7 linked regions of the Homo sapiens genome follow. The protein of the gene in region 2 interacts with the protein of the main gene of each other region in a biochemical or structural test. Each region holds a gene or a part of one and is shown on either strand. Other genes may lie near its edges. The genes, in order: PDZD2, FAT3, RADIL, SNTG1, PDLIM1, PDZRN4 and GRID2IP.

The links.
Region 1: the proteins of FAT3 (region 2) and PDZD2 interact in a test that uses a peptide from one of them, tested with the Homo sapiens proteins (one large-scale study listed by IntAct).
Region 3: the proteins of FAT3 (region 2) and RADIL interact in a test that uses a peptide from one of them, tested with the Homo sapiens proteins (one large-scale study listed by IntAct).
Region 4: the proteins of FAT3 (region 2) and SNTG1 interact in a test that uses a peptide from one of them, tested with the Homo sapiens proteins (one large-scale study listed by IntAct).
Region 5: the proteins of FAT3 (region 2) and PDLIM1 interact in a test that uses a peptide from one of them, tested with the Homo sapiens proteins (one large-scale study listed by IntAct).
Region 6: the proteins of FAT3 (region 2) and PDZRN4 interact in a test that uses a peptide from one of them, tested with the Homo sapiens proteins (one large-scale study listed by IntAct).
Region 7: the proteins of FAT3 (region 2) and GRID2IP interact in a test that uses a peptide from one of them, tested with the Homo sapiens proteins (one large-scale study listed by IntAct).

Annotation. Positions count from the first base shown.
Region 1 is NC_000005.10:32,083,131-32,086,630, forward strand, and holds part of PDZD2 (PDZ domain-containing protein 2), read left to right. Parts: intron 1-3,500.
Region 2 is NC_000011.10:92,227,818-92,231,317, reverse strand, and holds part of FAT3 (protocadherin Fat 3 isoform 1 precursor), read right to left. Parts: intron 1-3,500.
Region 3 is NC_000007.14:4,796,717-4,800,216, forward strand, and holds the end of RADIL (ras-associating and dilute domain-containing protein), read right to left. Parts: coding exon 3,455-3,500; intron 3,054-3,454; coding exon 2,914-3,053; intron 2,768-2,913; coding exon 2,662-2,767; 3' UTR 339-2,661; downstream 1-338. UniProt on the Homo sapiens protein: Downstream effector of Rap required for cell adhesion and migration of neural crest precursors during development.
Region 4 is NC_000008.11:50,698,407-50,701,906, reverse strand, and holds part of SNTG1 (gamma-1-syntrophin), read right to left. Parts: intron 1-3,500. UniProt on the Homo sapiens protein: Adapter protein that binds to and probably organizes the subcellular localization of a variety of proteins. May link various receptors to the actin cytoskeleton and the dystrophin glycoprotein complex.
Region 5 is NC_000010.11:95,281,004-95,284,503, forward strand, and holds part of PDLIM1 (PDZ and LIM domain protein 1), read right to left. Parts: intron 1-3,500. UniProt on the Homo sapiens protein: Cytoskeletal protein that may act as an adapter that brings other proteins (like kinases) to the cytoskeleton. Involved in assembly, disassembly and directioning of stress fibers in fibroblasts.
Region 6 is NC_000012.12:41,194,820-41,198,319, reverse strand, and holds part of PDZRN4 (PDZ domain-containing RING finger protein 4), read right to left. Parts: intron 1-3,500.
Region 7 is NC_000007.14:6,496,278-6,499,461, reverse strand, and holds the end of GRID2IP (delphilin), read left to right. Parts: intron 1-1,233; coding exon 1,234-1,398; intron 1,399-1,616; coding exon 1,617-1,688; 3' UTR 1,689-2,684; downstream 2,685-3,184.

The sequences.
Region 1 (3,500 bases), on a different chromosome or scaffold from region 2:
TTTGAGTCTTGTGCGTATATGGGTGTGAATAAATATATAGTCCTGTGCTTTTTTTGTCTTTTTGCCAAAAAAAAAAAAAAAATCCACTGTGGTAGTCACCAGTACCTAACAACCTTTTTAAACCTCATACATCCACACGAAATAATATTTGAGCAGCCTGCTGGCATCAGTAAGACTGCTCCTCAGCCCATGGGCCTGACCTAGCAGGCTGTCCCTCGCACTGACCACTCTGCTGTCAGCACACCCATAGCCTACTCTAGGAAACCGCACTGCTATCCTGCAGGCTCTTCTACACCCGACATCACCTGGAGAGGCTGCTGGGCCTTCCACCCCACGGATGTGCTGTAACGAGTCAACCTTCCTCCCATGATTGGGCATTTCGAACGTTTCCAGAGAAAAGGTTGTCTTGAAAGGTGACAACCAAAGGCTGCCTCAGTGTAACCTCGTCTCCCTCAGATGAAGACCTTTTAAGTTACAGACTTTGCAATAAAGTCAAATTGCTAACATGAATTGCCTGTTTAGGTTTATTCAGTGAGCGAATATGAAATTTGTTTATTTTTGAGACGGATTCTTGCTCTGTCGCTCAGGCTGGATGGAGTACAGTGGCTCGATCTCGGCTCACTGCAACCTCCGCCTCCCAGGTTCAGGCAGTTCTCCTGCCTCAGCCTCCCAAGCAGCTGGGATTACAGACGTGCACCACCACACCTGGCTAATTTTTGTATTTTTAGTAGAGATGGGATTTCCCCATGTTGGCCAGGCTGGTTTCGAACTCCTGACCTCAAGTGATCTGCCTGGCCTCAGCATCCCAAAGTGCTGGGATTACAGGCATGAGCCACCGCCCACGGCCTGAATATGAAATTTAAAAACAGAGTTTAAATCCCCTCCTTTTGTGTCATTGCTACTCCCCACCACCACCCGCACTACCGCCCATATTTGCTGTCACCAGAAGCAGGAACATTATGCTTAAGGGGAAGTTCAAAAAAGGTTGAGCAGAGAAGGAGAAGAGCACGTGGCTTTGAGTCTTGGCAGGCCCCTGGCCTTCCACAGTGGGCCTGGAAAGCTAGTAGCTAGTACGGTCTCCATGGGGATCTCGACGATCCAACCTTTTGATTGCCAAGGGCTCTCCACACAGAGGCCACATAGTCAGGGTTTAGGCAGTAGCATGGGCTGTGGAGCCAGCTTCCTGGGGCGACCGCTGGCTCTGCCACCTGTGAACTCTGACCTCAGACACATTGCTTAACCACGCTGTTTCTCCGTCCTCATCCTTCCAATGCAGATGGTCACAGGACATACCTCAGTGTTAGGAGGAAAATTAAATGTGTACAAAACTCTTAGCACAGTGTTAACTCCTTAATTATTGGAAAACCTCTTAGCACAGGGCTGAGTCCTAATAATTAGTTCTTAATTATTCACATAGCAAGGTCAGCAGGTTAAAAAAATGCAATTAAGATGATTTTATGTGAGAGCTGTGGAACGAACATAATATTTGGGGAAGAGTTGGTTTGACTTAATTCTCAAACCAAGAGCTTTCATGGAACTTCATTTTTCACTCCAACCTCAGACCCATAGTTCCTAAGAAAATAGCTTTGTTCTTTCTGATGCCAGATTTTTTTTCCCTGTTGCAAGATGCTGTGTGTCTGAGGTGGAAGATTAGCCCAAGACTATGCAGGGCCTTATGAACAGGCACTTTCAGGAGTGAGTGGCTGTTGGAACCCACCTCCTAGATGACTTCCCACTGTCCACTGGCACACATCCCCTTGCCCTGCCACCTCCAAGATTTCAGGCTCTTTCTTGCTTCTCTGCTTTCATTCTGTTGCCTTTTTTTTTTTTTTTTTTTTTTTTTTGAGACAGAGTCTTGCTCTGTTGCCCAGGCTTGAAGGCAGTGGTGCAATCTCAGCTCACTGACCTCTACCTCCTGGGTTCAAGCGAATCTCGTGCCTCAGCCTCCCAAGTAGCTGGGATTACAGGTGCATGCCACCATGCCTGGTTAATTTTTGTATTTTTCGTAGAGATAGGGTTTCACCATGTTGGCCAAGCTGGTCTCAAACTCCTGACAAGTGATCCACCTGCCTTGGCCTCCCAAAGTGCTGGGATTACAGGCGTGATCCACCGTGCCCAGCTGCCTTTTTTTTTTTTTAATTGACACATAATTGTACATACTTATGGAGCACAAAGTGGTACTTCAGTACATATATACATTGTGCAATGATTAAATCAGGGTAATTAGCATATCCATCACATCAAATGTATCATGTCTTTGTGGTAGGAACATCCCAAATTCTCTCTTCTAGCTATTTCAATAAATGCAATACCTTATTATTATTTTTTTTTTTTGAGACGGAGTCTTGCTCTGTTACTCAGGCTGGAATACAATGGCATGATCTTGGCTCACTGCAACTCCACCTCCCAGGTTCAAGCGATTCTCCTGCCTCAGCCTCACAAGTAGCTGGGATTACAGGCGTGTGCCACCACACTCAGCTAATTTTTGTATTTTTAGTAGAGACGGGAATTTCACCATGTTGGCCAGGCTGGTCTCGAACTCTTGACCTCAGGTGATCCACCCGCCTTGGCCTCCCAAAGTGCTGGGATTACAGGCGTGAGCCACCATGCCCAGCCCTGTTTTTGTTGTGTTGTTGTTGTTTTGTTTTGTCTTTTGTTTTTTTTACACTCAAACTGCCTTGGCTATTCAGAGTCCTTTGTGGTTCCATGCACATTTTACAACTGTTTTTTTTTTTTCTATTTCTGTAAAAAATGTCATTGGAATTTTGGTAGGAATTGTACCGAATCTATAGATGACTTTGGGTAGTATGGACATTTTAACGGTACTCTTCCATTGTCTTCCTTACCTTCCTCCTCCTCACTCTCTGGCCAAACTCCCCTTGTCAGCCCCATTCATGTCCCCACCTCCTCTGTCAAGTCTTCCTGGGATAATCTGGCTTCTCACTCTCCCACTCCTCTGAATTCGTCAAGACAGCCAGAGCTCGGTGTAGACCTGTATCCCAGCTTTCGTATTCTGTATGTTTTCCCTAGTTAGCCTCAGCCCCTGCACTAAAAAGGAAGCCTCTTGAGCTCGGCACTTGGACTGTTTTACACTGAAGTACATCATTCACATCCCCCAGTGTGAGCCAAACCCACACACCACTGGCCAGATACTGGGACTGAGAGGTCCATGAGGGCCCTGCTGCATCCACGCAGGAGTAGGGAACCAAATAGAACAAGAGCCTGACGCTTGCGGCTTTGCCATCAGAGGGTGAATGGCATAAAGAGACCCAAGTGTGCAATGATTAAATCAGGGTAATCAGCATATCCATCACATCAAATGTATCATTTCTTTGTGGTAGGAACATCTGCCATCATAGAAATACCAAAAGAGAGAAAAATGGGCAGATGTAAATGTTTCTTCTGCCGGCTAATCTGAGTTCTCTTAGAGCGTCTAAAGCAGGGTGGTATTTGTTAGATGTGGGTACTCTATAATTTTAGAGAGAAAACCAGGAAGACAA
Region 2 (3,500 bases):
TAAGGTAAAAAACCAAGCAACAGATCTAAATGATGAATACCTAAAGGACAGAACACTCTGAGGTGTTCTGTGACAAAGTTAACCTTGAGATTCATAACTGAGTCTCAAACATAGGAAAACAGAGGACTAAGAATACACCATGTGCACCTGCATGCAGGCTCCCAGACACATTCAAAAATCCTAAAAGTTACCTTTGAAATTGGGGGGTGGGAGACCACAAGGGGATAGTGGAGAAAGGACATGAATAAATTCTGAAGTCTTCTCAAAATATTAACTAACATTCCGACAGCCCATTTGGGCTGCCCCATGAATACGTTCTTCCAAAAAGGAGCTCTGCACTGCCCCCTGACAAATGAAGGAATTAATTTATTTCATAGTGCCTTGCATACATTAGGGCTGTAGTAAGAATTATTAAATGGAATTATATTCACTTTAATAACTTACACTCCTCTTAAAAGTTTACTCCACCTCACATTAATCTCTCCCTCCTCCTTGAGGCTCCTGTTCATAGACATTCTTTTGTCAATTAATAAACATTTTTAGATGTGACTTCTAGTGTACACACACAGGCATCTCTCATTTTCTCAATAAACAGCACGAAGCAGAAGCAATGGATATATTTTACTATTCTTTGAATCTTGCCCACTGTCTTGTGAAAGAGGTAGATTCAGTAAATATCGCTGAAAAGAACTTTAAAATAATTTTTTTAAAAAATAAATAACAGGGCTGAGGACGGTGGCTCATGCCTCTAATCCGAGCACTTTGGGAGGCCGAGGTGGGTGGATCACTTGAGGCCAGGAGTTCGAGACCAGCCTGGCCAACATGGTGAAACACCCTGTCTACTAAAAATATAAAAATTAAGAGGGCATGGTGGTGTGCGCCTGTAATCCCAGTTACTCGGGAGACTGAGGCATGAGAATCACTTGAACCCAGGAGGCGGAGGTTGCAGTGAGCCAAGAACACGCCACTGCACTCCAGCCTGGGCAATGGAGCGAGACTCTGTTTCTAAATAAATAAATAACAAAAATAAAATAGGGAAAATAGAGGAGAAAGCAAGACATTTTTTAAAGACAAAAAATTATTTTAAATTCCATGTGACTTTACAGAATTTTAAAAAGGGATATATTTCAGATGTACAAAGGCAAAAGTTAAAGAAACAACTTTCCTTTATTAAAGAGTCTATAATTCACAGTTTTGGAACCCTGGAAGAGCAGAACGTTGAAATACTAACAACTGCTCAAGGACTCCTCTCAGGGTCCTCTGTATGACTTTTCCGCCCACGGTAGGCAACACCTTCAATAATGCATTGTTCAAGGAAGGACAATGCTGTGGCCCTCCTCACACCTCCTCTAGGCTCTCCACATTCATATATATCTATCTGGTGAAGGAAGTAATATTTTGTTTATGTGAAGAGTTTAATTGATTAAGTTCTGAAATCTGTTTTCTATTTTCTATCATCATGCCAGTTAATCCATTCTCAAATTTTCATCCCTTCCACTTAGCAGAAAAAAAAAAAAAAAAAGAAAAAAAATCTAAGTCCTGGAATATGCTAAAATTAAGACTAACCTGAAAATGCCATTCCAATTCAGAACTGCTAGAATGGGTCATTTGTCACTATTACATGTAACTGATAGCCTATTTTGGTAGACCAGAAACTGGCTTGAAGCCACTAGACAAGTGTCAAATATGTTCTCAATAAATGCAGTCTGTGTCATTAAGCTGAATTTCTTTTTCAAGGAAAGGCAGTCTTTCCTGAAAATTATTCTTAGAAATTTGGAGAAAGGGAGGCAATGTAAAAAAAAACAAAAAACAAAAAAAAAAAAAACACGAAAAAACAAAAAAAGAAAACAAGGAAAGGAATAAAGCTTATTAAAGGAGTAGATACCCTGCAATTGACAGAAAACTCAGTAAGTTTGAGAAGCCTGTAGAATTAAATCGACCAAAACACAGAAAAGATATTTACTCTCTGAGTCTTCCCAGAGAAAGTTGTCACACTGTGGTGATCCTCAAGAGGTCAGGATATATTAAAAAACAAAGACCCACTCCTCACAATTTGGGTAGAAAGATGATGAAAATGACATATTCAACAGTTAGAGATCAAAAAAGCATTGCAGAAAATTTCACCAATAAGTAAAACTGCATACACAGGAGTTGTGCTTCCTTTAATATTTTTAAGACCATGCATATCTGTAGAAATCAGAGGCTCTGCTAACTCTAGGAAGGAATTGGGCAGAACACAAATCCTTCACTCTAAGTCTGTCAGATCCCTTTCTTTTAAATTTCCATTCCAATTCTAATGTTTGCCACAATCAGCAAAGAAGTGGTTCATCAATAGTCCTTCTTCAGCAATCAAAGGAAATCAATTCAAATGGACAGGCCCACCTGCTCCCATCAGATGATTCCCTACTCAAGGCTCCTGCAGAAGGAAAAAAAAGAAAAACCTGGGGATGACCCCACAATGGAAAAAAAAATCAAATATCCTCATTACTATCTTTCTCCTTCTTGCCCTAGAGGAAAAAGCCAACCCACCAGGCAACTGGACAGATGTGGGCTATGAAGGAATGCCATACCCCAATGCCACAACTGGTAAAATAAAGCCACAATAGTCCTTTATGCTTTGTGAGCTATTAATATAGCATAACAACGCAACAGCCACCAGGAGCACTCCTCAGACCTGCTGGTAATGACTAAATACCCTCTCCTGCCTGGTAATTGCCTACTTCTTTCTATTTGACATAATTCATCAGCCAGATTAGCTAAGGTCATTCAGGATCGTATGAAGAAGAAAGCAGGGATGATAACATAACCTGACACATCAAAATGTTCTTCTGTGAGCAGCCTGAAGAGCCATAGCTTTACAAAGGCTGTGGGCTAGCAAAATAACCGTATAGCATACAGGTCAGTGGGTATCCACTGTTTATTGCTACTCATTTCATTTTTGAGTAGCTCAGCACAACTGTAATTGCTAGTTAACAGACAGACTGGGTCCTATTAAAAAAATCCCCAAAATGACTCCGCCAGAGACCAGAATAAATAAAATTTGAAAGAAAGATTTCTAAAAGGCTTGAGAGCCAGTCGCTGGTCAACAAACCCTGGCTGTGAAAATCCTGCAGCCACAAGAGATGGAGCCAGCCCAGCAGCTGACTGATTTCTGATCTCTGAGCCAGCTGCCTTTCATGTGGAGTTCTCTGTGTGATTCAGATGATATGAAGACATTATAACTGGACAGTTCTGGGAACTTTCTCATCCCAGTGCACTGTGCACAGAAACTGGCCCCAGCATCACTCATTGTTCAAGTTCCAAAAAGGCAACAACTGAGATTCATGATTGAATATCAACATTCGGTTTAATTCTAAGAGACAACTTTTCTCCTTGTAAAATGTTAAAAAAAAAATAAAAAAAACTTCCCCCACTCCAACCCTATTAAATAAGAAGCACATCAAAGTGCTAAAGTTATTATGCTTTTTTTTTGTCTTTGTCTCTTAGAGCCCTGGTTTCCT
Region 3 (3,500 bases), on a different chromosome or scaffold from region 2:
GCTTTTAAAACACAAAAACAGGCCGGGCACGGTGGCTCACGCCTGTCATCCCAGCACTCTGGGAGGCCGAGGCAGGCAGATCACCTGAGGTCAGGAGTTTTGAGACCAGCCTGGCCAACATGGTGAAACCTGGTCTCTACTAAAAATACAAAAATCAGCTGCGTGTGCTGACAGGTGCCTGTAATCCCAGTCAGGAGACTGAGGCAGGAGAATCACTTGAACCTGGGAGGCGGAGGTTGCAGTGAGCCGTATTGCACCATTGCACTTCAGCCTGAGTGACCAGAGTGAAACTCCATCAACAAAACAACCAAAAAACAAAACACCCATAAGAAGTGTTACCTTTCACAGTGTTGTAGATTGTCTGGGGCCTGGCTGGGAAGTCGTTCTGCTCCACGTGGTGTCCCCGGGATCACTGGTGGGACTGCATTCGCCTGGAAGCTCAGCAAGACCAGAACAGCCAGTGGCAGCCCTCACCAGTCCCGCACCTCAGCTAGGTGCTTCAGCGGCCAGAGGCTAGCTGGGCCTCCCCGACTCCACGGGGCCTCCCTTCCTTGGGGTGATGCCAAGAGCTTCTTTCCATGGATGCTGAGTTCCAGGAGCATGAAAATAGAAACCAAAGGCCCTTCAGTCTGGCTTGGAAGGTCCCAGAATATCACTTATGCTGCATCCTGTTGTTCGGAGCAAGTCAGAAGGCCGGAGAATATTGCAGGGAAGAAGAGATAAGCCCCCTTCTCTTTGTGGGAGGAACTGTTGGTGGCCACCTTTGGAAATGCCTTGCCACTGTCTTTCCTCTGGCCACAGTCCACACCCCTCCCACATAAAAAATATACTCAACCCCCTTCCACCGTTAAGGCATCAAATCAGAGTCCAGGATCCTGGGATCTGCACCAGGTCCAGAAATGCAGACCGTCCAGAGCTGTGAGACATTCTCGGCAGTGCTAACACACACGTTGTGGGACTCCTAGGAAAAGAAACAGAACAAGGCCAGGCATGGTAATCCCACGCCTGTAATCCCAGCACTTTGGGAGGGCAAGGCGGGCAGATCACTTGATGTCAGTTTGAAATCAGCCTGGCCAACGTGGTGAAACCCTGTCTCTACTAAAAGTACTAAATTAGCCAAGCGTGGTGGCAGGCGCCTGTAATCCCAGCTACTCAGGAGACTGAGGAGAATTGCTTGAACCTGGGAGGTGGAGGTTGCAGTGAGCTGAGATTGCACCACTGCACTCCAGCCTGGGTCACAGAGCGAGACTCCGTCTCATAAAAAAAAATTAAATATTTATATTTTATATAATAAAATATAAAAAATGTTTATAAAATATACGAATATATTACGTATACATGAATATGTAATATATTCATATATAATTATATATTTATATATATTCATATATTTTACATATCTTAAATATATATACAAACACTATATATATATATATATTTTATCCAGTATTTTGGGAACCTGGCAGTGGTCGCCGTTTCGAGCCAGGCGCAATGCGGAGCCGCACACAGAACTGCGGGTCGGCAGAGGGCGCGGGGCGGACGCGCTGCACCTCGCCGTAGCGCACACCAGGGGGCAGCGTGGAGCTGCACGAGGCCCAGGGCCTGGGACAGACCCAGGACACCGATCTGGGGACCCCGCACAGACCTCTGTCCCAGTGAGAGGTGCATCTGCAACTGATGCCGGGACCCTCTTCCCCAGGGTTTCTCTGTTGCTATCAAAGATGACCCTGGGCCACCAGTTCCACCACAGCCAGGAGGGCGCGGAAGCCACCCACACCCAGTTGGTGGAGCTGCTGAGGATGCCCAGCGACCCACGCTGTCACCCCGAGGCAGCAAGTGCCCTGCCCTGGTCCTGCGCATGGTCAGCCAGCTGGTGGAGAGGGACGCTGGCCTCCTGCCCGGGTTAGGGCCGGTGGCCAGGGGGACGCTGGTGAGGATTAAGGGCCTGGGGCCGCCAGCCTGGTATCAGGGCCACGCTGGTGGCTTTAGTAGGGGAGAGGAACTCAGGAGGGAGCAGGAGTCCTGGGAGAGGAAGCAGGGCCCAGGGTGGGCTCGGCGCCTCAGAGACCATCAGGCCGGTCCACTTTCCAACGCCTGGGTGTCTAGACCTTTCTCTGGGGCCTGTGCTGAGCAGCGGGATCAGAAGTCCAGCATCCTCTGCCAGGTCTGGCCCTGCTTCAGCTGGGAGGGGCTGTTGGAGCTGCTTCCTGCAGTGCCCTGTGTCTGGGTGGGACGGGGGCAGGGAGAGTCAGTTCAGATGATCCCCTGATGACAGCTGTCACTGCATTCTCCCGTGCCGGTGGCAGGCAGAGGCCATGGGGAGCCCCTGCGGCCCCTCCGAGCAGCCCACGCCTGCTGCCCGAGTTGAGACCCCAGCAGGGCACCCTCTAAGAACGGGAAAAATAGTTTATTGAACCGTACTTCTCCATTGAAGTCTTTAAACATAAAAGCTCTGTAACAAACATCACAATTTCACGTCATCTGCCATATAAATAGAACCTACACTGAGATGCATGTTATCAACAGGCATGTCCCCAGGGTGAGGCTCCCCACCCGGGACCCAACTTGGTCAGTTACAAAACAGGGACGAAGGCGGGAGGAAGCCCAGTGTCACCAGGTGGGACCGGGTGCCGGGCCTGTGGGGGTGTCCTCGCAGCCCCCCTAGAGAGGGGGCGTGCGGAAATGGATCTTCTTGGCTGTTTCCACGTCGGACTTCGCGACCAGGAACCGCATCTTCTTCCCGCCATGACGGATCAGGTCCACAGCTCTGAAATCCATGCCAGAGGTGGGGGTGGGCAGGAGGGCACCAGGGGAGACCCACAGGGTGCAGCCGGGCCTCTCCTTTACCCCAGGTCCACTCCCCTGAGCAGGGCATCTGGGAGAAGGGGCCGGGCGTGCATGCGGTGGGGGTACCTCAGGTAGCCAAGGCCCAGGAGGCTGCTGCCATTCACCTCCAGGATACGGTCCCCCAGCGACAGGCGCCCGTCGGCCGCTGCGGGGCTGCCCGGGAGCAGGGTCTGGATGTAGAGCCCGGGGGCGCCCAGGTGCGTGTGCTGGGGACAAGCAGAGGCCTCAGAGCTCCGCAGGCCCGACTGGCTGTCCCCAGCGAGGACCACTGCAGCCCCTCCCTTGGCACCTACAGGCCCCCGCCTGGCATCCAGCCAGGCCCACTCATGGTTTCACGCGTCCCTCCAGAAAAGCAGTGGACACCACCGTCCCCACAGGCCCAGGACAGACCCCAAAGGCTTGAGGACAGAGGCAAGAGACAGCAGGCCCAGGGGGCGTGGCCGTTGGACAGGCTGGGTTCCCCTCCCAGCTGCAGAGGCCAACCCCACTCTCCTCCCCGAAGGCCTTCCTGTAGCCACGTGGCCACGCAAGCTGCGGCCAGGCTTGCATGAACAGGCGGGGCCAGGCAGCCAGTATGGGGGTGCGGCGAGGGTCCTGGGCCACTCACCATCCCGTCGATCAGGCCCATCCCCAGCCCGGAGGGGCCTCGTTCC
Region 4 (3,500 bases), on a different chromosome or scaffold from region 2:
TGCATTCCAGCGTGGGCAACCAGAGGGAAACTCCATCTCAAAAAGAGGAAGAAGAAGAGGGAGAAGGAGGAGGAGGAGGAGGAGGAGAAGAAGAAGAAGAAGAAGAGGAGGAGGAGGAGGAAGAGGAAGAGAAAGAAGAAGAAGAAGAAGGAGAAGAAGGAGAAGAAAAAGAAAAAGAAGAAGAAAAAGAGGAAGATGAAGAGGAAGAGGAAGGCAAAGAAGAAGAAGAAGAAGGAAGAAGAAGAAGAGGAAGAAAAAGAGGAGGAAGAAGAAGAGGAAGAGGAACACGAAGAAGAAGAAGAAGAAGAAGAAGAAGAAGAGGAAGAAAAAGGTATTATATCACAATAGATTGAAAAGCTAGAGAAATGTTCTCTAGGAAGTAAATTTTAAACAGTGGCTGAAAACGAGTAGAATATCAAAGATAAAGTATAGAAAAAGGGTGTTCTTTCCAGAGAGTGGATGGGACTGGCTGGGGCCAAGTCAGGCATTTCAGAAATTCAAAGAAAAGGAGGCAGAAACATTGAGAGCTGAAGCTAGGGAAGGACATGGGATGATTGATCTGGTTATAAATTTTGGACTTGAACACAGTATAATGACAAGCTACTATAGCAAAAATTTTAGTATGCCCTCTCTTTATACTGCAGATATTTCAACATCTACCTTAGCTTTTTAAATTGATAAATTGGCAAAAATCTATAACTAAACGTTGCAGTTTCCAGAAACCTTGCCAATTTTATGGTTTATTAAATTGCCCTTCATTTTCCTTATAATAAAAAATATTATCTAATGTCATTATTAGTCAGAAAATTTTGTTATTTTTTCCTTTTCATAAATCACATGTAGCAATAGGATCTTAAAATGGACTTCATGTAAGATTTTCTATTCTCTTAGCAAAACTTTACTCCTTTGCTCTTTTAAAACTCAATTTAAGATCTTCTGTTATATTACCCAAGTCGTGACTCTCTCTCAGACAAAGCATCCTCTAATCAACTCTGCAAATATAGTTTCAGCATCTCTGAAAACTTCTTGCCATTTCCTGTTGTTATTTATAATATACTTCTCATGAACTGACTCACACTGCAAATGGCATCTGAGCACCCAGGTCTCATTTTAGTGAGGGAGAGAAATATGTTAAAATAACGAGCATATGACAGTGCTATAGAGGTAACATGCTAAGGAAGCAGAATAAGGAACGATAAATCATCTTGAGGGAAAGTAGGAGGGGGAAAGTTGTATTGTAGGGAGAGACTGTAGTACCATCAAGGACTTAAAGACAAATGCAAGAGCAACCTGGTGCAAGCCTGAAAAAGACCAGGTGATCCTGCTAAGAAATTCATAGAATGCACCTGCCAGGAAAAGATATTGGAGAGTTAAGTGAGAAGGGGGCAGCATAGACTCTAAGCTTTAGATGGCTAAGAGTGGATGGGTGGGAGGAGGAGAAACTTTGGAAAAAGCAGGGGTTCCTTTATCAGAAATTTAGTGAAAAGTGACTATAGCTCAATCATTTTAAAGATCTACTTTCAACATAATCATCTAAAATCATTGACACTAGATTTCTTTTACTAGAGTTTCTACCTTTGCTGCCTATAACATTTCAAAAGATTGTGTTCCTTTACGGTTGCAGTCATTATCAAGTTATATGCAAGTAATAATATATATATAACTAACTGAAAAACTAAATAAGATACTCTTAGAGACTGGCATTGACTAGAAGTATTAGTATAATAAGGAGTATTTACACGATTATCCACATAGGTTTAAATAAGAATGTATATATTCCTCTTTCTCACCCTCATTCTCTCTCTAACACACATGCAGGAGCTGTTATAAGGTGATAAGAACAAAAGTTCTAGCTTCAGAATTCTGTCTTGATTTGAATCTCCTCTCTTTTATTTATTAATAGGTAATCCTTGTCAAGTTGATTACCATATATATAGCTTCCTTCACTCATCACTAAAGTGGAAATAATTAATTGATCTGATGATTAAATAAGATACTATATTTAATTCTTTGCTTAGTATCTAATACTTGGAAGTACTTAATGTTGGAAATTTTTGTTGTCAGTATTGATTCAATAAAATAAATACAGATAAATATTCGTATCATTTCCTAACTTGCCTTCTATGGCTTGCTCTCTGCATGCATTTCTCTTTTGTCATAGTTTGACTTATGCCCCAGTAGAAAGAATAGCCTCCAGAATACTTTTTTGCCAACTGGAAAGTATCATTTAATAATAGTAATGATAATAATAATAGCTAAACATATCAAGAACTCATCAGTTGCATTTTTCTCAATTTTCTCACTTCTCCAGAAGTATCTTCTATTTTGTTAGATTTGTTCCAAGTTCTCTCAGATTTATAAAGCAATATTACAAAGAAACAACAGGTTTTTTTTTCAAGATGGCTGACTAGATGCTTTTCCAGGGTACTTCATCCACTTAGAAGAATGACAATGGTGTGTAGACAATCACACTTTGCACATATGAAAGCAAAATCAAATATTGGGACCCCAAACTCACTATACCAAAGGGCTAAGTTTAGGTAGTTAGTCATGAAAAAACTGCCTTCCTTTCATTCCCAAAAAGCTGTAATTTCATGTTTACTTTATGTAAAATGTAGCTTTTCTGCTCATTAGTAAGATCCTCACAAGAATGTGACCACTTATCTCATTGCCTACCCAGACTTTTTTTCTTTCTTCCTCTTCCTGCTTGCTTTTTCCCTGTTAAATATTGAAGTTCCCAGAACCCTTTTTAAAAAAAAGCACAGGGTACAGATCTCCTTGTGATTTGTGTTTCTTTTTCCCAGGCATGTTCTCAACCTTGGCAAAATAAATCTCTAATTGATTAAGATCCACCTCAGTAACTTTTTTGTTTACAAACATATTATCCAAGAGAGAACACAGGAGTTCAACAGTAACACACGAAGAAACTCCAAAATCTGACCAGAAAAAGAAGAACAGTCAGCCTGTGTGGCTGTGGGACTGGCTGAAAATGAGAAGAGAGTAAATTCCCAATATGGGAGAGGGTGAGTGAGTATCTTTCTGTGGTCCAATTTCCCACTATAGAATCATATAATTCAGGCCACGGTAGAGCACCATGACTTTTCTAAGCCCTAGATCTACCTTGGGATGTGGCTGGGAGACTGTAAGAAGTACCTGCTCTGGGAAGTGTCCCATGCACTTCCCGAGACCTTGGAACCTACAACAGAACACCATTCTTGATCCTAGCTCTTTGCAAGCTGTGCACAGTCCTGAAAACTAGCAGCAGTGGCAGCCTTTGTCATTAAAGAGGCTCTAACAGTATCCTGGGGATCTGGTGCTCAAGCAGGGAAGAGGTTCCCACAGCCAGAACCGAGAATCAAGTATGGCATGGGCTCCAGCCATTGGCATGCTGGAACCAGGCTCACCCCATCTTTCACTTCACCCCCTTCCCCCACCAGTACAGGAGGGGATTTGTTTGGGAGGCATAGTGTTGGGCTGTGCAGTGACTCCTAAGGCCTGGG
Region 5 (3,500 bases), on a different chromosome or scaffold from region 2:
ACCCATACCTTTTTAAAGCTTCCCAGAAAATGTTAATGCTCATCAGGTTTGGAAACACCAAGAGAGATGATGACTATGACTATCTTTTCCCCTTAAACTCTCTCCCTGAATGAAGTTAAAGTCATCAGGTAGACAAAAAGTAATTAGACCCTAAAATCTCAGCTCCTCCAGAAACACCTTCAAGGGCAGAACTTATACTCCTATAAAATACATACAAAGCCCTTGAAAGGAATATCCATTAGAATAGTATTCCTCTATCTCTTACCAAAACAGACTTAAAAAAAAAAAAATAGGCCAGGCAGGGATGGCTCATGCCTATAATCCCAGTACTTTGGGAGGCCACAGCAGGAAGACTGCTTAAGCCCAGGATCTTGAAACTAGTCCGGGCAACACAGTGGGACCCTGTCTGAACAAGAAATTAAAAATTAGCCAGGCATGTAGTCCCAGCTACTCAAGGAGACTGAGGTGGAAGGATCGCTTAAACTGGGAGGAAGTGGAGGCTGCAGTTAGCTATGATAGCACCACTACACTCCAGCTTGGGCAATAGAGCAGGATGCTGTCTCAAACAAAACACAAACAAAAAAATACAGCCCCTGTAATGTTGGTTAACACCCCTGAAAATGCTATGCAAATGAAGCATTGCATAAGTAATTTTGTTGTTTTTTTTAAATAGAGATGGGGTCTCACTGTGTTGGCCAAGGTGGTCTTGAACTCCTGGCCTCAAGCAATCCTCACACCTCGGCCTTCCAAAGTGCTAGTTTCACAGGCATGAGCCACTGCGTCCAACCAGTAGAAGTATAATAACTCCAAACAAGATATCTAAATAACTCGACGTGGGTCCTATTTTCCCTTGGCCAGAAAACTCACAGCTAAATGTAGTGTGCAATTACAGAACCAACTGATTTAAAGTTCCTGGCACTTCTCTCTCTTTCCTCTTCCATGTTCCAATTTTTTGTTAAATCTTATATGTGTTCTTGTGTTTTAAATATTGTAAATGTGTAACTAAGTGAAAGACAAGCCTAAGACAAGCCTGCAAGTAAGTGAAAGAGACAGCCTAAATAACGATAGTAATAATTATATACAACTGGGATAAAGAAATGTGAGATTCAAGTTCAATCGCAATGCTACATGCCTTTAAGCATAATCTCCGCTGATTTAACAGTTGTGTCAAGGTATTTGGGTACAAATTTAACAGATTCTAAACTGGGGATAAAGCAGGACCCAGCTCTGTAGGATGCCATTTACATGTGGAATTTGAACTCTCTTTAGTCAGAATCTTCTGACTCAGTATGTTTGTGAGCCGAGGCTGTGGCACAGACTTCACAGCCATATTATGGCTGCAGAAGCTGTATGCATTTACACAGGGTGACCTGAAAACATAACACTGTTTTAAAATGTTCTTGGTTAGTCTATAACCATTTTCTCAGGGAAATGAGGCAATAAAATAGGGTAGATGCTTGTAGATAAGTTGCACCTTAATCCAGCTTCACACTATGCATGGTGCAAAAAGAAGTTATTAGTGCTAAGGGGTGACAGTTCAAAGAGACGTGCTGCTCTCTCAGTCTGAAAGACCGACCACCATTTCTCAGACAGGAATATAATAAAACAGGTAGCCAAATAGAATACTCTGACTAAATTCTTAAGAAGTCATCGAGGCCAGGCGTGGTGGCTCATGCCGGTAATCCCAGCACTTTGGGAGGCCGAGATGGGCGGATCACTTGAAGTCAGGAGTTCAAGGCCAGCCTGTTCACCAACATGGTGAAACCCCATCTCTACTAAAAATACAAAAAATTAGCCAGGTGTGATGGCGCACGCTTGTAATCTCAGCTACTTGGGAGGCTGAGGTGGGAGGATCACTTGAACCCAGGAGATGGAGGTTGCAATGAGCCGAGATCATGCCACTGCACTCCAGCCCAGGCGACAGAGCGAGACTCCGTCAAGAAGTCGTCGAGTTCCTCAAAAGTTTCCAAACAAGCTCCTATGAACCCTACGTGCTTTTAAATAGCTCCAACAGCTACCACCCATAACCCAAAGCCTAAACACTCACTAAACCTTGAGGGAATTACTCTCTCTGACTCAGTATCTTCATTTATCAAATGAAATTTATAATGCATCAACCTCATCAGGTTGCTGGAAGGCTTAAATGAGACTGCATTTGTAAAGAGTTCAGAACAATGCCTGGCACGTAATAAACACTCAATATATAGTAGCTACCATTAATATTTTTAATATTTAATAGTTTAATAGTACCACTAGGCTCTCTCTATATATCATCTTAATCCTCACCACAACCTTTGAAGACAAGCGCTATTATTCCCACATTGCAAATGAGGACACTGAATTTTCAGGGGTTAACCTGTCCAAGAACATACAAGCTAGTAAATGGACAAGATAAGGTTTGAACTAGATCTAGCAGATATCAAAAATGTATTTTTCCCTTGACATTAAGATGTCTTTAATTCTTGATTTGTTACAGTAAAAATAAGGCAGAAAGCACAAAGCAATGAAGTCCCAATAGTTCACTGAGATATAGTAATTTGGTTTTAGAAATGCTACGTGTGCGGAAAAAGTCTGGAAAGGTTTGCAGCCAGCTGTTCACTGTGTTTACCTCTGTAAAGTAAGACTGGGGAAGCCTTTTACCTTATGCTTTCTGTAGGTTTATATTGTCCGATCTTTTAAACAATTACGCGGGCTTCTATGTAACCTTTACTGAAGGATGACATGTATACAGCACAAATGGTAACGATACAGCTGATTGAATTCTCACATACAGAGCACACCCAAGGAAACAGCATGGGATAAAGAAGAGGACATTACCTGAACTGCTAAACCTCCCTGTGCCCGCCTTCCGTCACTGACCTTCCGGCAAAGGTCTGCCATGATCCTGACTGCTAACACTGTAGATTAATTCTGTCTAATTTTATGTAACTGGAATCACACAGTATTTACTCTTCACTCTTAGGTATGGCCTTTTTCTCTGTGTGTGTGTGTGTGTGTGTGTGTGTGTGTGTGTCTCCTTCATGTCACTGTGCATAGTTGTAATTTCTTCACTCTTGTTGCTGTGATGTTTTATACCATATAATTACACCCACTACTTATCTATTCTATTGCTGTTAGACATGTGAATCGTTTCAAATTTGGGGCTATTATGAATAGTGTTGCTTGGAAAATTCTCAAACTTGTCCTTTAGCACTCATGTGGACCCAGTTTCTATTGACTATTTAACTAGGAGAACTGTTGGGTTATATGGTATGGGTATGCTCAGCTTCAGAAGCATAAGTATTTTTTATTATTTTTTTAAAGAAATGGGTGCAAACTATTTGCTGCATCAACCATATTTAATCTATCTGTATGCATTTTTTTTTTCTAGATGGAGTTTCGCTCTTGTTGCCCAGGCTGGAGTGCAGTGGCGTGATTTCAACTCACTGCAACCTCCGCCTCCCAAGTTAGAGCAATTCTCCTGCCTCAGCCTCTTGAGTAGCTGGAACTACAGGTGCCTG
Region 6 (3,500 bases), on a different chromosome or scaffold from region 2:
GAAGAAAGTGTAAACAAAGAGCCATGAATGATTATCCACCCTTTCCCACTCTGGAGTTATGGTTGCATTGCCTGCTATCAGTATCATAGAAATAAGAGAGGAGACTGGGCACTATGGCTCACGCCTGTAATCCCAGCATTTCAGGAGGTCAAGGTGGACAGGTCGCTTGAGCCCAGGAGTTCAAGACCAGCCTGGGCAGCATGGTGAAACCCCATCTCTACAGAAAATTTTTAAAAAATTAGCCAGGTGAGGTGGGGTGCACCTGTAGTCCCAGCTACTTGGGAGGCTTAGGCTGGAGGATACCTTGAGTCCCAGAGGTAGAGGCTGCAGTGAGCTGTGATCATGCCACTGCATTCCAGCCTAGGTGACAGAGCAAGATCCTGTCTCCAAAAAAAAAAACCCAGAAAAAACAAGGAAAAGAAGAAGAAGAAGAAAGAAAGAAAGAATAGAGGAATCGATGCTAAAAGCAACAGTGAACTTTGTTTCTCAACTCCCTCCCACATACCACTTAGGCATCCTAACATGATGATAACTACAGCAATGGTCATGCCTTCTTCCAGAATTGTGCCCAACCTTCGATAGGATCAGGGATTTTCTGTGATTCCTTTGATTCTTGAAAGAATGAAAAACAGCATGCTTTTATTCAGCTGTATACTGTGGTGAATTCTTGGTGTATGTGAATTTCTGTGATGTTTCAAAATGCCTTCAACAATATCTTCTGCCTTTTCAGTCTCCAGTGATATTTTGACACCTAGTGTAACTCAACTATCACAACTGATTTTTTAAAATTTACAAGCATAAATAGTTTAACAAATATGGATGTGGAAATAGCTAGAAACTGGTTAACATAGTTGCTTGTGGAGACTGACTCCAAAAATTAACTTGCCTTATATTATGTGAAAAATATGACATAGGTTTACCTAATGACAGTAATTTTTTATTCTTTTATTATTCTTGAATTTTATCAATAGAATGCAAATATTAAAAAATAATACGTGTTACTAGCCTTTGTTGAACTGTGGCAAAACTATTATAACTAATATATTATTTATTAGAGTTTATAAAATCTTTTTAACCACCAACAGAACAAAACCTTTAACATGTCTACTTCCTCTTCAAGTGAATAACTTTGGAAAATTTTATTATTTTTTAAAAACAATTCATAAACTTGTATGTGTGCATCAAGCAATTAGCTACAGAAAATATTTTTGAGCATATCTTGACTATATATAAACCATAGAATCTCTTATTGTTTTTATTTTTTATTTCAGTTATATATCAGTAAATTCAAAGCATTTAGTAATGTGTCAGATTGTGCATAAGTCATACGGATAATTTTATAATATATGAACTAGTTTGTACCCTTTACACTGTTAACAAACTTACTTGTTGCACCAGGTTTAAATCAGCATGACCATTTGAAATTCAAAAATTGAGCCATTAAATTTGTTCAATGAACAAATCTTTGATCACAAAACAGAAAATAAATTATTATCTTTACTTTAAAAATCTGTTTTAAAATATGCATCTGCACATTTTAAATTGATAGATTTCTTCTCAATTTCCAATTAGCTAAAAACTGCTTAAAGTTGATTGATATCATAATGACAGAGAAACTAAAATAATGATAAGCATCAAATATTTCTAACTTTAATGATTACATAGGGATCTTTTACAACACACACCATATGCACAAGAAAAAACACACTTCTTGTTTAACTAGATATTAAAGTCACACAAATATCTATTCACTCAAAAAGCCGATAGCATCACTGAACAACTAAGCAAGAGCAATTTATTTCTAATAATCTTCTTTCTAAAATATTTCATGCTATTTAACACACAACATTCTAGAAATATGCACCTCATCTAACCCATTTCTTAACTGCAAATGTGGTCACATTGATCCATTCTACAACTATAGCATATATACATAAAATCAATGTACCCTGGTATAAAAGACACATTGAAAAATCTATATCATTGAGACAAATTTCAAGCTCTAGTCATTAACTGCTAATATATGCAAATGAAAGTGAATAATAATACCGCAGCTAGTTAAATTTCATTTGAATTTCTGTGGTTGACCTCCTTACTTTTTATCTTACAGGGTTTAAATAAGGTTAATCTGACATATATTAGTAACAGTACTATGTAGGTGTCTAGATGCACTTGATTTTCAACCATAGTTTTATAAAATTACCTCTTTAAAAAAAACAGTAGGTTTGTAACCAAATTGTTGTATGACAATATAAAAAATTCTTTTTCTTTTCTAATGTAACATTAATGAAGCATACATAATATTGTCATCTAGCTAGAATAAGTTATTTTTTAAATTGCCAATACGTATTTCTGTTGTGTCTATGTGTTTGTGTGGGTGTAACAATATATGTATTCAGTTCCATCAGTTCTTCTAATAATATCAAATGTAGGAATTTATTTTCCATTGGTAACTGGACAACTTAATATGTTTTTGAGATAATGCAGAAAGTAATAGGGACAATCTTCTGTTTAAAGTATGTTGCCCTTTAGATCATACTGTGCACATTCTAACTTTAGAAGCTACAGCATGTGAATGTTTCCACTAGACAAATTGTCAAGATGAACTGGATAGCAACAGCAAAAGTAGGTCTGCACTTTCTCGGCAACAAAACTGGAAGAATAAAAATCTTGATACAAGAGACCTCTTTAGATATAAATCAAAGTTTTTTTTTTGGCAAAAGATAACTCTTCTTTTTTTTCTAAATTTTGTAGTCGGCTAATTTATAAATGTTGTGTTCTTTTTTCCCAAAACAGCAAACTATTGGGTCTTCTATATTCTTCACTCTTACTCTATGTCGATTCATTAAAAATTCAACTTTGTTTAGTGCACAGAGGATGAATGAAAAGCTAAAACTTTATTTAAAATTTAATATAGAAAATCTGCCTCCATTCTGATAGTTTATATAAGTATTCAGAGAGATAGCACTAGTGATTATATAGCCTAGAGTGAACAGAATTTTTAAAAACAATAGTGGAGTCAAGTAAACCTTCCAAATTCCTATTTATAGCTTCACTAATCCATTGGAAATAAACTCACTGATAAAAGTAACTTAACCATTTTTGGCAACAAAAAGTAATATTATCTTAACCAGTTAATAAAATGTCAAAAGGACAGAGATGGCAGATGGCAGGGACATAAAATTTCATTAACATAACCCAATTTTACTAGCATATAGGTGCTCACTTTATCACCCCCGAATACAACAATACAGTTAAAACATACAAAGAGTTCTCACCAGGTTTTCACAACAAAGAGAAAAAAAGGTATTTCTCTTTTTCTTTCATATAAAAGATAATGACAGGAACAAGGTAGCCATATTACACCAAGAAATATTAAAAGTATTGTATAATTTATTCCAAACTCTACATATAAAATATTAATTACAAATTTAAAATATAATCATAGTTCCTCATCAGAAATGTTCCTCAACAGAGATTTATCATCCTTTTTTGAAATG
Region 7 (3,184 bases), on a different chromosome or scaffold from region 2:
GAGACTCTGTCTCAAAATTAATTAATTAATTAATTAAAGGCAGCCTCTGCAAAGGAAATTGACCTGGCACATCAGACAGGCATAGGCCCAAATCCTGGCTCATTTCCTTACCTGCTGTGGGACTATGGGCAAGTCAGTTACCCTCTGTGAGCCCAGTTTTCTCATCAGGAAAAAGAGGGGTCATGAGAACCTCTACCACAGTGGTCATTAATTGATGTGACCCTGGTGGGTTCAACCGTGGCTCAGGCACCACAGTGCTTGCTGTGTGATCTTGGGCTAGTTGCTAAAGTCCTGTGTGCTTTAATTTGTTCACATGTAAAATAGAGATAATCTACCTCATAGAGGTGTTAAACGATGATTCAACAAGCTTGGAACAAAGCTCGGCACCATTTTAAGTGCTGAAAAAATGATAGCGATTCAGCCACTGAATCTTTTTGCAAGACTGACCATGTATCAGATGCTATTCTAAGCCCTGGAGGTGCAAGGAGGGAGCGAGCTTTCACTTAGGCAGTAGGAAATGAACTTATGAACAATTTCAGATCATGACAAATGCTCTAGAAAACAGAGTAAGGCCTAAGGCCAGGTGCAGTGGCTCACACCTGTAATCCCAGCACTTTGGGAGGCCAAAGTGGGAGGATCACTTGAGCCCAGGAGTTTGAGACCACCCTAGGCAACATACACCCCATCTCTATTTTAAAAATCAAAAAATTAGCTGGGTATGGTGGTGTAAACCTCTGGTCCCAGCTGCTCGGGAGGCTGAGGTGGGAGGATCACTTGAGCCTGGGAGGTAGAGGCTGGAATGATCTGTGAGCTGTGATCACACCACTGCACTCCAGGCTGAGCGACAGAATAAGACCCTGTCTCAAAAAAAAAAAAAAAAAAAAAAAAAGTAAGGCCTAGAGAGTGACAGAGGGGCCTACTGTAAATGAGTGGTTGGGGAAGAAGGTGGCAGTGGAAGCCTCTGATCAGAGACCCAGGGCCTGGCCCTGCAGAGAGAACAGGGGTGAATGGCCTGAGGCTGCACTGGCTGTGGCCAGTTCCAGGATGAGTTCAGTGGCCAGTGGGACTAGAGTCCCTGAACAGGGCCTGGTTCCCTGTTGGACACAGGGCCTGGCCCTTGGAAGGACTCAGGCCAACCGGGAATAGGGCTGCTAGGGACCTGTCTGTCGGGCCACCACCTGAGACCCTGGGGGCACAAGCGGGCTGGCTGTTTCCTTAACTGAGGCCTGTCAGTCCTTCCTGGAGACGGCCCAGCCAGCACTTCGGGCGCTCGACGGGCTGCAGCGCGAGGCCATGGAGGAGCTGGGCAAGGCGCTGGCCTTCTTTGGGGAGGATTCCAAGGCCACCACCTCTGAGGCTTTCTTCGGCATCTTTGCAGAGTTCATGAGCAAATTCGAGGTGAGCCTCGCTGGAGCCCTGAGGGGCCCTTTTGGAGAGGTGGGGGCCAGAGGCCAAATGAAGGGATCCTCCATGAAGCCAGGGCTGGGAAAGGGGCTCCAGTGAGCGACATGTCCCCCTAACCCCCTGATGGGCTGTCTAGTGTGGGAAGAGACAGGGAAGGCGTCACAGGTTCCTGGGACCACTGACCACCCTACCTCTGTGTTCCCCCTCCCCAGCGAGCGCTGAGTGACCTGCAGGCCGGGGAGGGCCTGCGCAGCTCCGGGATGGTTTCACCCCTGGCCTGGTGACAGTGGCCACACCGCGTCCTCTGCGGCCTGAGCAGGGAGATGGAGGCCGAGAGGGCAGCCCAGACACTGCCGAGGTCCGGGGCCACTGTGCCCCGGGCTCTGAGCACACCGCCAGCCTCTCCTGCAGCTACCTCAGCCGCCGAGCTGTGGTCGGGCCCTCCTCTGCCAGCCCTTGTTCCTACCCCCAGGCCCAGAGCCAGATGCTGTAGGAGCAGGTGCTGAGTGTGCCTGCACATGGAGGACCGTGCTCTGTCGGCTTCTTGGGCCCACTTCCCACTTCGCTCCCAGGCTGTCAGGGGGGCCTGGAGGGTGGATTACAAAGTGGCCACATTCCTGGGACATGTGGACCTTTTTTCTGATCCTGCTCCTAGTGGGTCCCTGTGAGGGGGCCGACACCCTTGAGCACGACCCTGCAGGCAGGCGCGAGACGCGAGAGGGCAGAAAGCCGGATGTAGAGGGGCCCTGGGGATGTGCACGCCCAGCCTGGGCCTTGGAAGCTGGCTTCAGGGACACAGGAAGAGAGAAGCCTGGGAGAGACGCAGGGAAGGAAGGACTGGAGAAGGAAGACCCCCTATGTCAGACTGCGGAATTGAGGTTTCATGCAGTGGACAAACCCAAACCTGTGTAGAGGTGGCCCAATTGGAAGTGGGGAGCCTGGGAGTGGAATAGGTGTGGTCAAGGTAGAGCAGACAGAATGGGGAGGTGTTGAGGCAGGAGGTGAGCAGGATCTGGTGGCCAACTGCCAGACTTCTCACCTGGACGGATGGTGATGTTCCCTGGAGCAAGTCATGAGACCGGGGCAGGTGTGGGGGCAGATGACACAATCTGGGATGTGTTTGGGACCCAAATGGTCATTTTACATGTGCCTAGGCATATAGCAGGAGTTACCTGGATACCAGGAGCAGGAGCAGGTGGCGTGGTGGGCAGGGAGGGAGGGTGTGTGAACTGTTTCACCTTTTTTAAAATTCTCTGATTGACAGATCCTTGGATCAGACAGCTTCCCTCGTTGCACTTTTTTTTTTTTTTTTTTTTGGAAAAGTCTGAAATGGGCTTTAATCCTGTCTCATGGATTCTTTTTCTCCCACTGCAATCAAATGGCTTACATTGCACCTGGGCAGTACTGGGAACCTGTTCAGTTCTTCCCAGTCTCCCCTAGGCCCCTCTTGGAAGCCACCTTTGTTTTTTTGTTCCTTGCACACAAGCACCATACAAAAACATCAAAACCAAAATATATACTGCAAGGGGGATGTGGCTAGTGGGGTACATTTCACCCTAGCAGCTCAAGCAGAATTGTTTCCAAAAGTTCCCAGTGCCTGTGTCTCTGGGAAACATGTCAGGAGGTCAGTTAAAACCTCTGCAGGCAGGGCGTGGGGGCTCACGCCTGTAATTCCAACACTTCGGGAGGCTGAGGCAGGTGGATCACCTGAGGCCAGAAGTTCAAGACCAGCCTGGCCAACATAGTGAAGCCATATCTCTACTAAAAATACACAAAATTA